Homo sapiens: one gene and its partners. The protein of the gene in region 3 interacts with the protein of the main gene of each other region in a biochemical or structural test. Each region holds a gene or a part of one and is shown on either strand. Other genes may lie near its edges. The genes, in order: MAPK12, HTR2C and SNTA1.

Region 1 (3,747 bases), on a different chromosome or scaffold from region 3:
GGTGGACGGGGCACTTTGCTGGTGGACGCAGGGACTCGTTCTCCCAAGGCACCGGTGGCTCAGATGACCCAGGAGGGTCCAGAGCATCTCACCCTGTAGGTAGGGTCCGGGTGCCCAGACCACCAGCCCTCAGGCTGGGCCCAGACCAGGGGGAGGGCAGGAGTGACGTGGGGGGCAGTGGACAAGTGGGACTGTATCCAGAAACCAGAGCACCCCTGGCAGAGAGATCGGGTTCTTAGCAGCCAGCCACCGCCATGGGAGAGGCCCAGGGCAGCTGTACGTGGCATCTCACTGGAAGGACTGGAAAGGATGGGCCCCCACAACGCACAGGAGGGTGTCTGTGAGGCGGCCACCACGCCCAGTGCTCCTCAAACAGCAGCTCCCTAAACCCTTCACCCCCAGGGGCTCCTGAGGGTTCAACACACTCCCTGCGTTCTGGCGCCCCCCTCCTCCCCCTCCACCACCGGGTCGGAAGACTCGGGAGATGGACAGCAGCAGAGTGGGCTCCACAGAGGGGCTGGAAAGGGGATGGGGAAGAGGGAAGGTGCCCCTTCCAGGAAAATCCTCCCGCCGGGAGCATGCTCTCACCGCGGGCTTCCTGGCTGGGGGCAAGGCTTGGCGTGAGACCTGGAGGATCCCCTGGGCCTGGCCAAGTCGTGTTCCCTGACCAGGGCCTGGCTGAGGCGCCGAGTCAAGGGGCTGAGTCCTTCCCGGGGCTGGCGGAGGATGGGGAACGGCCCTTGGGGGAGTCGTCTCCCAAGGAGAGACAGGCCTTGCTCTCCTTCTCCCCTGGGGACCCACGGCCCGACCCCCGCCCGGCCCCACAGCAGGCTGCCTGGAGGAGGGGTTGCCGGGTGGGGGAACCCAGCCCAGCTGAACCAAGCCGAGGCCGCGGCGCCTTCCCGGAGCGGGGCCGCGCGACTCACGTTCTCGTGGCGCATGTGCTTGAGCAGGCGCAGCTCGCGGTAGGCGCGCTTGGCGAACAGCTCGGACTGGAAAGGCCGATACAGCTTCTTGATGGCCACCTTAGCGCCGGTGCGGCCGTCCACGGCCGAGCTGCGGGGCGGACCGCTTAGCGGGAAGGCCGGGCACCCCGCGCAGGCCCCGCCCGCCCCGCCGGCCGCCCCGCCCGGCCCGCGCTCACCACACCGCGCCGTAGGCGCCCGAGCCCACGGGCTGCAGGTCCCGGTACACGGCGCGCACCTCCCAGGCCGTCTTGGTCACCTCCTGGCGGTAAAAGCCACTGCGGGCGGGCGGCGGAGAGCTCATGGCAGGCCCGGGAGCTGCCCACCCCGCAGAGCCTGCGGGCGGTGCCCCCACGACCGGGGACGGGGCTCCCTCGGCGCGCGCCTCGGGCCGGCTCCGCGCCGCTCGTCCGCTCGCCCGCCCGCCCGCCGGCCGCTGGGGCGCTCCCGCTCCCGGCCCTTCCCTCAGGGATGTCCCAGGTGCCGACCCCGGCCCGACCCCGACCCAGGCTGCGCACGGCCCCTCCCCCGCCCGGGGACCAACCGGCCCGCGGGCGGCGCGCACGTGACGCCCTCGCCCGCCCTCCGGCCCCTCCGGAAACCCGAGGCGGCCGCCGCCGGGGGAGGGCCGGAGCCTGGGGAGGGCCGGAGCCTGGGGGGAAGCGCAGGGGGAGGGGAGCGCCGCCCCGCAGCTTCGTCCCCATAAAGGGCCGGACGCGGCGCGGAGATACCTCTGCCAGCCTCTCCCCTTTGGCTGAACTTCCCCGCCCTGGGGGGGTCTCAGCAGGAGCCCCCCCCCCCCCCCCCCGCCCGCTCCAGTCCTAACTCCCCACGGCTCCAGGGCGCAGGGCCCATCCTTGACAGCCTGAGCGCTGACTTCTATGGCAGCCGCAAGTCGGGCTGAGCCCTGTGTTCCCGGGGTCAACTTCGCAGGCCACCCCCAAGGATGCCCTACCACTGAGCCTGATCCATCCGTCCCCCAACAAGGGGTCCATCTGCACCTGTCCTGCCTGTATCCCTCTTTCTACACGGAGGGGTCTGTCCCCCAAACTCCTCAGGCTGCATCCCCAACCCCACTCCTGTGGCCACTGACCCCGGGCCTCTCAGTCCCATAGGTCCCCGTGGGCCCTTTTGGACCCCCAGCTCCTCCCCCTGCTCCCCCCATCTGTGGGGTGCCTGCTCCAAGCATTGCAAGTACTGGTGTCTCTGCCCATCCCACCCCTGCCTGTCCTGTCCTGCAAAACCCAGGCTGAGAGTGGCTGCACTCTCTCCAGCAGGGATGGGGACCTGCTGGGGCCCTCCGCCTGACCCCTCTGTGTGGGCATTGTCCTCCCATAGGTCTGGCCCCATCCTGGACCAGATGCTCCTGAGGGCAAAGCCCCACCCTGACACCCCTTCACCAGCCCAGGAACCTGGATCTCAGAAGGGATGTTGGGGCACCCCAGGAGCCCACTGGGCTGGTGGGTAACAGGATCCCTAGGGCCTTCTGCCCCGCCCTCCTGCCATGAATCAGCAGCTCAGCCGCTCAAGGGTGGTAGTAGCTTTACACCTGGGCTTGGGCCGTGCTCCACGGCATTCACCAGCTCGTGACCAGTGAGCGGGGCAGCCCAGGGCCACCCAAACCACAGCTGCCTGTGGCCCATACCCTTTGTGCCCTGGGCTGCCTGTGGCACTCCATCCACCTCTTCCAGGAAGCCCAGCTTCCACGCTGTCCCCCTTACTCCCCGTGGTGGGGCTCAGGGGTCCAGCAGGCCCTGCACGGACCAGGCTTCTGAGGTGGGGCTGTGTCACCATTCTCCTCCCACCCCCAACCGCCAACACTGGACTTCCCCCGGGATTGACCACTACACTGACCAGGCCCCAGGAGGCCCCCAACTCCCAGACGGTTTCCACCCCTACCCAAGACCCAAGCAAGGGCACAGACTGTCCCTGGTCCTTAGAGACACTGCCTGACCCCAAATGGCCTGGACCCTCCCCCACACATAAGCTGCAGCGCGTAGTGGGAACGGGACCAGCGTGCACATTCCCTGGGTTAAAGTGGCCTCTTTTTCCTTCACCAGGAGGGAAAGGAAAGCTATTTTCCCTACCCTGCCCAGCCCCCACCCAGGGATGGGCAGACCCTTGCTCCTTGAGACACCCAACTTCTCCCCAGCCAGCTTCCCTGAACACTGAGGGGTAGGCGGGGGTGGTGTCTGGATCTTGGCCCAAAGCCAAGCCTGCCCAGTACATCCCCACAGGGCAGCTGGGGTCACCATCTGGGTGGCTGTCACACCCTGTGCCCTCAAAGTCTGCCCATCAGCCATGTCTTCCCCTGGTCCCCCTGGGCTCTCAGACCCTCCAGGGAGCAGGGAGGGTGCCAGAAGATGGCCGCTGGTCTGACTGGGGGCCTGAGGGATCTGGCCAGCTGGAGGTGAGTGATGCAGGATGACCCAGACACTCCCCCCACGCCCAGCAGCAGGGATGGTGGGGGCACCCGGGCCTGGAGTAGCCTTTGGATACAAGCCAAGTGAGAGAGAACCCCCTTTATTGTGCACCCCTGGTGCAGGCACTTGACACCCAGGCTTCCCTGGGCCCCTCGAGGCAAGAGGTCACCCCCTTTCCAGGGCAGAGCCACACCCCCAACTCAGCTCTGGGCAGGGTCCCGTCTCCGAGGTTACTGGATCAGCTCCATCCTGGGACAAGGAAAGAGGACTGACCCACAGACCAGAGCACCTCAGATCTCCGGCTGCAGGGCCACAACGGTGGGCAGAGGTAGAGAGCGGGCCAGGGTGCAGGGCAGAAG
Region 2 (3,747 bases), on a different chromosome or scaffold from region 3:
GGTGTATTTCACTGTGAAATGGAAAATAAAACAGTGTGGTAGGGCTAAGCTTTAGCTAAACTAATTTAAGAAGATTTATAATATTTTTATTGCCCTAAAATATGTTCAGAGAAATTACCTGAAATCATTTCAGGGGAAACTGTTATTCTGTTAGATGCCTTGAATTCTTGAATATTATTGTGCAGATGTGCTAAAAATTCTATTTTAGCTCTTCCTTCATCTTCTTTCACCTTTACTTTAACCATTGGAATACAATACAATCAATCAAGATATGTTAACTGATTACCTACTATGGGCAAGGCACTTATCATATATGTGGGCTAGTCAACAAAAGCTTCCTGCAAGAGGTGGGGCTTGAAACGGACCTTGAAGATCAGACAGAATATAGATACATTTGGGAGAGAAAGCTACATACCACAGTACTGGACTTCTCCAATCTTTCTAGCAATAAATTCTTTTTTAATCACGGATCAGGTTTTTTGTCAATTTAAAATGGAAGTAAGAAATGGAAGTAATTGGTTTGGTTTTTGAATTTTTAAAAACCTACTTTTAAAAAGACTTTAATCATATTTAGAATTTTTCCAAGTATGGTCTTTCTACCCTGAAATAACTTTAGTCTAAGTATTGTACTCAGATATGGTTTTTCTACCTGGGCTCAGATCAGTAAACTAAAAAACTGGCAGTTACTTTTTATAGCACCTATTTTCCAAGTCATAGCTATCAAATTACTTTTCCTGACTCTAGTATGAAAAGGAAATACATGGCAAATGGGATCAGACAAGACTTGAAACCTTCCTGATATATGATAAATAATTTTTAACACAAACTCAAGATTTTATTGTCTTCATAATAAAACAAAAGATGACACTTAGAAATGGATCACTTGGACCTTTCTCTTCTTATCTCTTCCCAGTTCAAAATGCTTGCATCTTTTAATGGCAGCATTCTCTTAGATTTGCAGTTGGGATCAGTGCACTCAAGCCTTAGCACAATATTCTTTGTAGTTTTAGCTTTTTTCCGAAAAATTGGCTTAGTCTGCCCACCATATTCACTGCGCTGCCTGTCATAATGCTGCTTTCCCTGGGCATACAGAGAATCTTTGCCCTTCTTGTACTGTGTCGTTTTGTGGGGTTGGTGCTAGCCACACTTCTTTAAGTCTTGTGAGTTTTAGGAACATTCACCATGTTTTCGGGAGCACTATCGGTACGGAAAGAGATAAACGATTTTTACTGATCCTTCTGTCAGTCGGTCTTAGACCTTCAGAGCTTCTATTTTACTGCTTGAATTTCAAGTAGGCAATATTATATAAATGACAAATATGAATGGCCTTTGTTGTGGTGTTACATGTAGTAGAAACCTGTGGGTCCAACTCACAGTAGTAACATCTGCCTGTCCAGTCATCTCTACATACAATAGCATTATTTCCCTGACTTCATTTCTGTCTTTGTATTATCTCTGTAACTCCCCTGAGCTTCACTCAGCTTCTTGTCCCTCAGTCTCTCAGCATTAACAGTACATTCTCATTTGCTCTACTTCTTTATTGGTAGGTGAATCTCTAGATGAAATGTTGCATGTCTGTCTCATTGCCTTGCCAAGCAGCATATCGAGGATTAATGGACATTGTCCATTAATATCCTCACATTTACATGCAAATTTGTTCTGTTAAAAGACTAGTTGTTACAGTATGAAAGAAAAATTAGCCAATTTCTAAACAGAGGCAATAGTTTGTTGTTTAACACCACGGCCTCTGGAATAAAACTGCCTGGTTTCAAGCTTGGTTTTGTTCATTCAGTTTGAACAGATTAACCTCTTTGTATGCCTCAGTTTCCCTAACTGCAAACTGGATAATAGTAGTACCTTCTCATGGGGTAGTCATCAGGCTTGTATGGTTATATACCTGTAAACCTCTTAGAACTGTGTAGTGCATGGTAAATGTCAATAAATAGTGGCCACTGTTACCATCTTTTATACCTCTCCTCTTAAGAATAATTACTTGCTAATTTGGGCAAGTCTTACTACTTTGATTACAGGAAGCTATAATTGAAGAGTATTCAGTGAGTCTTGATTACTGAGATAAAATGGGAGATACGTAAGTTTAAAATACACTTGCAAAAGATTTGAACACTGACATTTATTCGTAAGCGTTTACTGATTAGTTTAAAGAAGACATCATGTTTTATGAAAAAGTAAAGGAAATCCTAGCCAATTCATTCATTGCTATCCTTGTCTAGATATTAGTTGACATTATCTTTGGTTTCAGTGGTGTTCAGTTTTCACTTTTTATTTTTACATTGAGCTCAACCCCACACCTTGCCATTAACGCTAATTCAACTCTGAATTTAAATACCCATATATGGTGGCTGTTGCACTGGACAATGCAGTTCTAAAGGCTTTCTAATAGCTTTCAATAAATTTATGCATAGTTCTTAATAGGTAATAATAACAGTATGTTACCCAAAGGTGTACTTGTATTTAAAGGAGACAGTGACTAAGATGAAAGAGGGAAATTCCTGAATGTAGAATTTCAAGTTATATGGAAAACCATGAAGGCTACTAATTTAGGGACCAGAAGGCCTTTCGAGTGCTTCTCAAATTAGACCATGTAAGTGGTCATCTATGCATAAGGTTAACCATAATTAAGAAGAATGACTGTTTCAAATGCCAGCTATATGTACAATGCTATAATACGCAACTATTTTAGGAAACTGCAGATGACACTGTCTTAGCCACAGCTGAGAAGAGGAATGAATAGCGAGGTTGAAGTAGAGATGCCAGGTAGGAGACAAAAACAGAATTAAAATTCCATCTTGTGTATATCTTATTTGAAATCCTGATTTCACTATGTCGTTTGTGCATTAAAATGTCAGAAGTGATTAGCAAAGAGTTGTTGCAGGTGAGCATTAGTATTAAATCTGCTAATGACTTGCCAAATGATGATGCAGCTTAACCACTTGGTTGTTTTCAATGTTGTTTGTCTAGAATGGAGATGACTAGACTGTCTTGCAGCAATGTTCTCAGTATATGAAAAAGCCTTCTTAAAATGTCTTGAAGAATGGCAGTGTTGGAGAGATCCATAACTTGAGCACACATTAGACTGGAGATTGATGATTTCTTTTTGAGGTTCAACAGTACAATATGTAGATGAAATGACATAGGTAGCCTAGAATGCTAACAAATAAATAATAAATGTTGCTTAGTGCAATAATTTAAAATTTTCAAAGTGCTTAATACCCATCTGTTTCACAACAATCAGGTGGGGTTATATATGATACTGACATAAAATATCACAATAATATATTATTAACTTCAATTTATGATGAAGTTTTCCTAGTTTGCTCATGGCTACCAGGCAGCTAGAGGAACATAATTTAGCAGTTCTTCCACTAGACAATACTAAGCTGTATCAGATGCTTTACTAAAATAATCTCAGTACACGTACATCATCCTTTTGTGAGGTATTCCATTGCTATGAAAGTGAGGTGGTAAGATGCTCCTTAATAATACTGGACAAATAGTCTGGAGCTTCAGGAGCCATTAAAACCTGGGAATTAATTTATCTTTCAGCAGGCTCAGCAAACTGCAACCTCCTTCAATCTCAGGCCTTGAACAATTTAATAAGAATAGCTGAGGATATTTAATGTTGGTTACTATAATCTCTCCCCCAAATTTTGTTTTAATTTTTGTGTTTCCCTTAGCTGGAGAGGGATGACGTTTCCTTGAAGGAAATACATGGAACAGTAAAATTAT
Region 3 (3,747 bases):
TTTCTTCACCTGCAATATGGGAATTATACTCCCTACCTTTCACCACTTGTTGCCAGGATGAAGTGGATCATGAGACTAGTGTCCTGGGCACAGCACCTGGCACACAGTGGTGGCATTCACCACCATCCCCACCGCCTCAGCCAAGCCAAACGGTCTGGAGGCACTAGTCAACAGAACCAGTACCAGGGAGACCCCAGAGGGTACGGTATGTATTCAAGGTGGAGACAAAGGCTGATACCCTTTCCCAAAGCACCTGCTGGGGGCTGGGACCCTGAGAAACAGATGGGCAGGAATAGTGAACCCAGCAGCTGGGGGTGTGCAAGGATTTTAACAACTATGTTTAGTTGCTTTGGGAGTATCTGCTGGCCTCCATTTTTCCTCTCCGCTAACAGCAGTAATTAACTAGGCACCTACAGTGTGCTGGTGTGGTGAGCCCTGCTCTCAGAAACATCACAACTCTGTCATCCTCTTATACAGTTGAGGAAACAGATTCAGAGGCGGGACGGGACTTTTGCAACCTCACACAGCTGATCCTGGATTCAAACACAGTCTGGTTGCACCCTAACTGCACCCCACTAGCGGTCAGTCCTGGGGGCTGAAAGCTCTATCCTGTGCAAGGTGGAGATAGTCAGATCAGGAGACCCAAATCCAGCTGTCAGGGCTCCCTGCAGCCTTCCTGGGTCCTTAGATTCCTAGGTCCTTGCTGGCCTTCTGCCTGTGACCCCAGCCTGTGCCTGCACCCAGGCCTCCTATCCACCCCTGTGCTTCCCAGACTCCAGGCTTCCCCTCTGCACCCACCTTGGTTGCTTCTCAGGGACTCCCTCCTCCCTGTCCCACTGGTGTCCCGGCCTCAACCCCCTTTCTCCACACTCTGCTTTCCGGGGGACCCCTCTTGTCCTTGATGTTCATGCTGGTTACCCCTCAGACCCCCCCGCCTCCACACAGAACTCCCACCCACGTGTCCTTGGTGCTCCCACAATCTTATCCACACCTGTGTCTTCCGTGCCCCCTAAGGCCACCAACTACTGAAACCCCCTCCAACCTTGGTGTGCCCAGTGCCCTCCGTTACCTGTTTCCTCAGACCCCCCTTACCCCCAGACAGGAAGCCTCCAGCTCCATGTCCTGGGCGCGCTGCCAGCCCCCTGCGCCCTCGGCTGCCCCCAGACACCACGACCCCGCGCCCTCGGTGTCCCGCGCCCACCTTTGATGCTGATGCCCAGCCCACCGGCGTCGGCCTTGCGCACCGTCACGCGGCGCCGCTGGAGCAGTAGCGCCTCTGGCAGCTGCGGGGGCCCGGCGCCCGGCTCCGCGGCGCCGTTGAGCTGCGCGGGCTCCTGCTCCCGCGGAGCGCCGGGCTCGGGACCAGGGTCGCCGTCGGCGGGGCTCACGGTCAGCACGTCCTCCGCCAGACTCAGCAGCACCCGCTGCCATCGCTCGCCGCCGGCCCCCGAGCCCGCCCCGGCGCGCAGCTCCAGCAGCCCGGTGCGCGGGGCGCGCCTGCCGGACGCCATCTTCGCCTCCGAGCCCCCGGGCCGCCGCGCTCGCCCTGTCCCGCTTTGCCCAGCCCGCTCCGACCAAGCGCCCAGGGCAGAGGGCAGCGGGGGCCCGGCTGGGCCAGCCGCCACCCTACCCCGGCCGCTGGGGGAGGAGCTCTGGGGGCGGGGCTACCCTGGGGTGTGGCCAGTGCTGGGGAGGGGGCCTCGGGCAAATGCAGGAGGCCGGGGCGGGGCCCGGGAGCCGAGGGCCGCCGTGTGGGACTACCTAGCGGGGTGGGTCAGAAGGGCGGCGGGGCGGGCCACTAAGTAAGGCGAAAGCCCGGGAGGCGTGGTGCTGGGCGGGGCGTCAGGGGGCGGGGCTTCGCGTCGGGGGCGGAACCCAGTGAGCCCGCGCAGGGGGCTCGGCGCTCGGAATGCCCATCGAGGGCCGGGACTGTAACTCCCGGACGTGGGAGCGCATGAAAAAGAGACAGAACCACGTATCCTGGTGCGAAGCACTGGGCATCGGGCTGGGCTGCATATGGCGGAGGGCTGGGCTGCGTATGGTAGAGCGTTGGACTCCAAGGCTTGAGTTTAAGAGGTAGACACCGTCTGGGCGTGGAGGCTCACGCCTGTAATCCCAACACTTTGGGAGGCCTAGATGACAGCCCAGAAGCTCGAGGCTGCAGTAAGCCGCGATCGCGCCACTGCACTCCAGCCTGGGTGACAGAGCGAAACCCTGTGTCAAAAAAAAAAAAAAAAAAAAAAGGTAGATGCTGAGCCGCGAGAGACCTTGCGGGCACAGTTGCTAGTTGGGGAGCTGAGGAAGAAGTTGGTTTCCTATCGGGGAGGGCGGGGGATGGGGGGTGGGGGTCGAGGCTTTGGTCTGTGGGCGTGGCTTATCGCTGGCGTGGCTTCTAAAGATGACAGGCCCCGCCCCCTGGAGGAGACCGCTACCGACACCGCTTAGGGCTTGGGGGAGGTGTGGGCAGGATCCCCACTTCAAAACTGGAGGGAAGTTTAAGAGATTAACCCCTGGCTGTGTTCACAGTCGAGTATAGAAAAGCCTGAAGTCCCACACTTTGAGGCCTGGCAGAAAAAAAACAGAACTGGTGTGTGGGAAGAGGGTTGCAAGGTGGGGCTCTGGGTCTGGGCGACTGGAGACATGGTTTCTAATCTTTGCTGCCTCTGTTAGCTCCAAGTCGACTTTGGTCCCCTCACGTCACTGCTCTAGGCCTCAATTTCCTCATCTGTAAAATGTGGATCATAATAATACCTACTTCACTGGGCTGGTGTGAGGATTAAATCAATGTGAAAACACGTGGTAAACTGTGACTCCCTATTCTATAGAAATAATCACTTTCATTTAGTGAATGCTTACTCTTACCTAGGGCTGGCAGAATATTTTCCAAGTGTTATCTTTACATTAGCCTCCTGGAGTAGCTAAGAGCACCCCCAGCTGGGCACAGTGGCTCACACCTGTAATCACAGCTGAGGTGGCAGGATCGCTTGAGCCTTGGAGGTCCAGGCTGCAGTGAGCTGTGATTGCACCATCACACTCCAGCCTTGGTGACAGAGCAAGAAAAAAGAGCACCCCTATTATACAGAAGGGAAAACTTGGATTTAGTCTAATTGGCCTAGGTCACACATTTATGAGTGAGGAAGAGCTGCGATTCAAACCCAGGCCTGTTTGACACCAGTGCCTGGGCACTGAACCACTCTGCTAGACAGCTGACAAATACAGAGGTAAAGCATGATTGTAATCTGAAAAATCCACCACATCACACAGCTCAACTGGCCTTCATACCTGCTCCTTGTCTCTATCCTCCATTCCTAGCTGGGATATGTTGAGCAATAAATAAGTAGGACTACACCAGTGTTTAGCCTCCCTGAACTTTTGGGTAAAATCCTCCACATAAGATACCATCAAGAAAAAAAAGAGGGGGCCAGGTATGGTGGCTCATGCCTGTAATCCCAGCACTTTAGGAGGCCGAGGCAGGTAGATCACGAGGTCAGGAGTTTGAGACTCAGCCTGGCCAACATGGTGAAACCCCATCTCTACTAAAAATATAAAAAAATTAGCCGGGCGTGGTGGCAGACACCTATAATCCCAGCTACTCAGGAGGCTGAGGCAGGAGAATCACTTGAACCCGGGAGGCGGAGATTGCAGCAAGCAGAGATTGCACCACTGCACTCCAGCCTGGGTGATAGGGTGAGACTCCGTCTCAAAAAAAAAAAAAAAAAAAACCAACAACAAAAAAAAGGAATTGTT

Evidence for each region.
Region 1: of the proteins of SNTA1 (region 3) and MAPK12, one has a biochemical effect on the other in vitro, tested with the Homo sapiens proteins (2 studies listed by BioGRID and IntAct, with this or other methods).
Region 2: the proteins of SNTA1 (region 3) and HTR2C interact in a test that uses a peptide from one of them, tested with the Homo sapiens proteins (2 studies listed by BioGRID and IntAct).

The regions. Positions count from the first base shown.
Region 1 is NC_000022.11:50,260,241-50,263,987, forward strand, and holds the start of MAPK12 (mitogen-activated protein kinase 12), read right to left. Parts: upstream 1,444-3,747; 5' UTR 1,270-1,443; coding exon 1,145-1,269; intron 1,057-1,144; coding exon 927-1,056; intron 1-926. UniProt on the Homo sapiens protein: Serine/threonine kinase which acts as an essential component of the MAP kinase signal transduction pathway.
Region 2 is NC_000023.11:114,587,057-114,590,803, reverse strand, and holds part of HTR2C (5-hydroxytryptamine receptor 2C isoform a precursor), read right to left. Parts: intron 1,215-3,747; exon of another isoform or gene 819-1,214; intron 1-818. UniProt on the Homo sapiens protein: G-protein coupled receptor for 5-hydroxytryptamine (serotonin).
Region 3 is NC_000020.11:33,442,110-33,445,856, forward strand, and holds the start of SNTA1 (alpha-1-syntrophin), read right to left. Parts: upstream 1,655-3,747; 5' UTR 1,512-1,654; coding exon 1,202-1,511; intron 1-1,201. UniProt on the Homo sapiens protein: Adapter protein that binds to and probably organizes the subcellular localization of a variety of membrane proteins. May link various receptors to the actin cytoskeleton and the extracellular matrix via the dystrophin glycoprotein complex.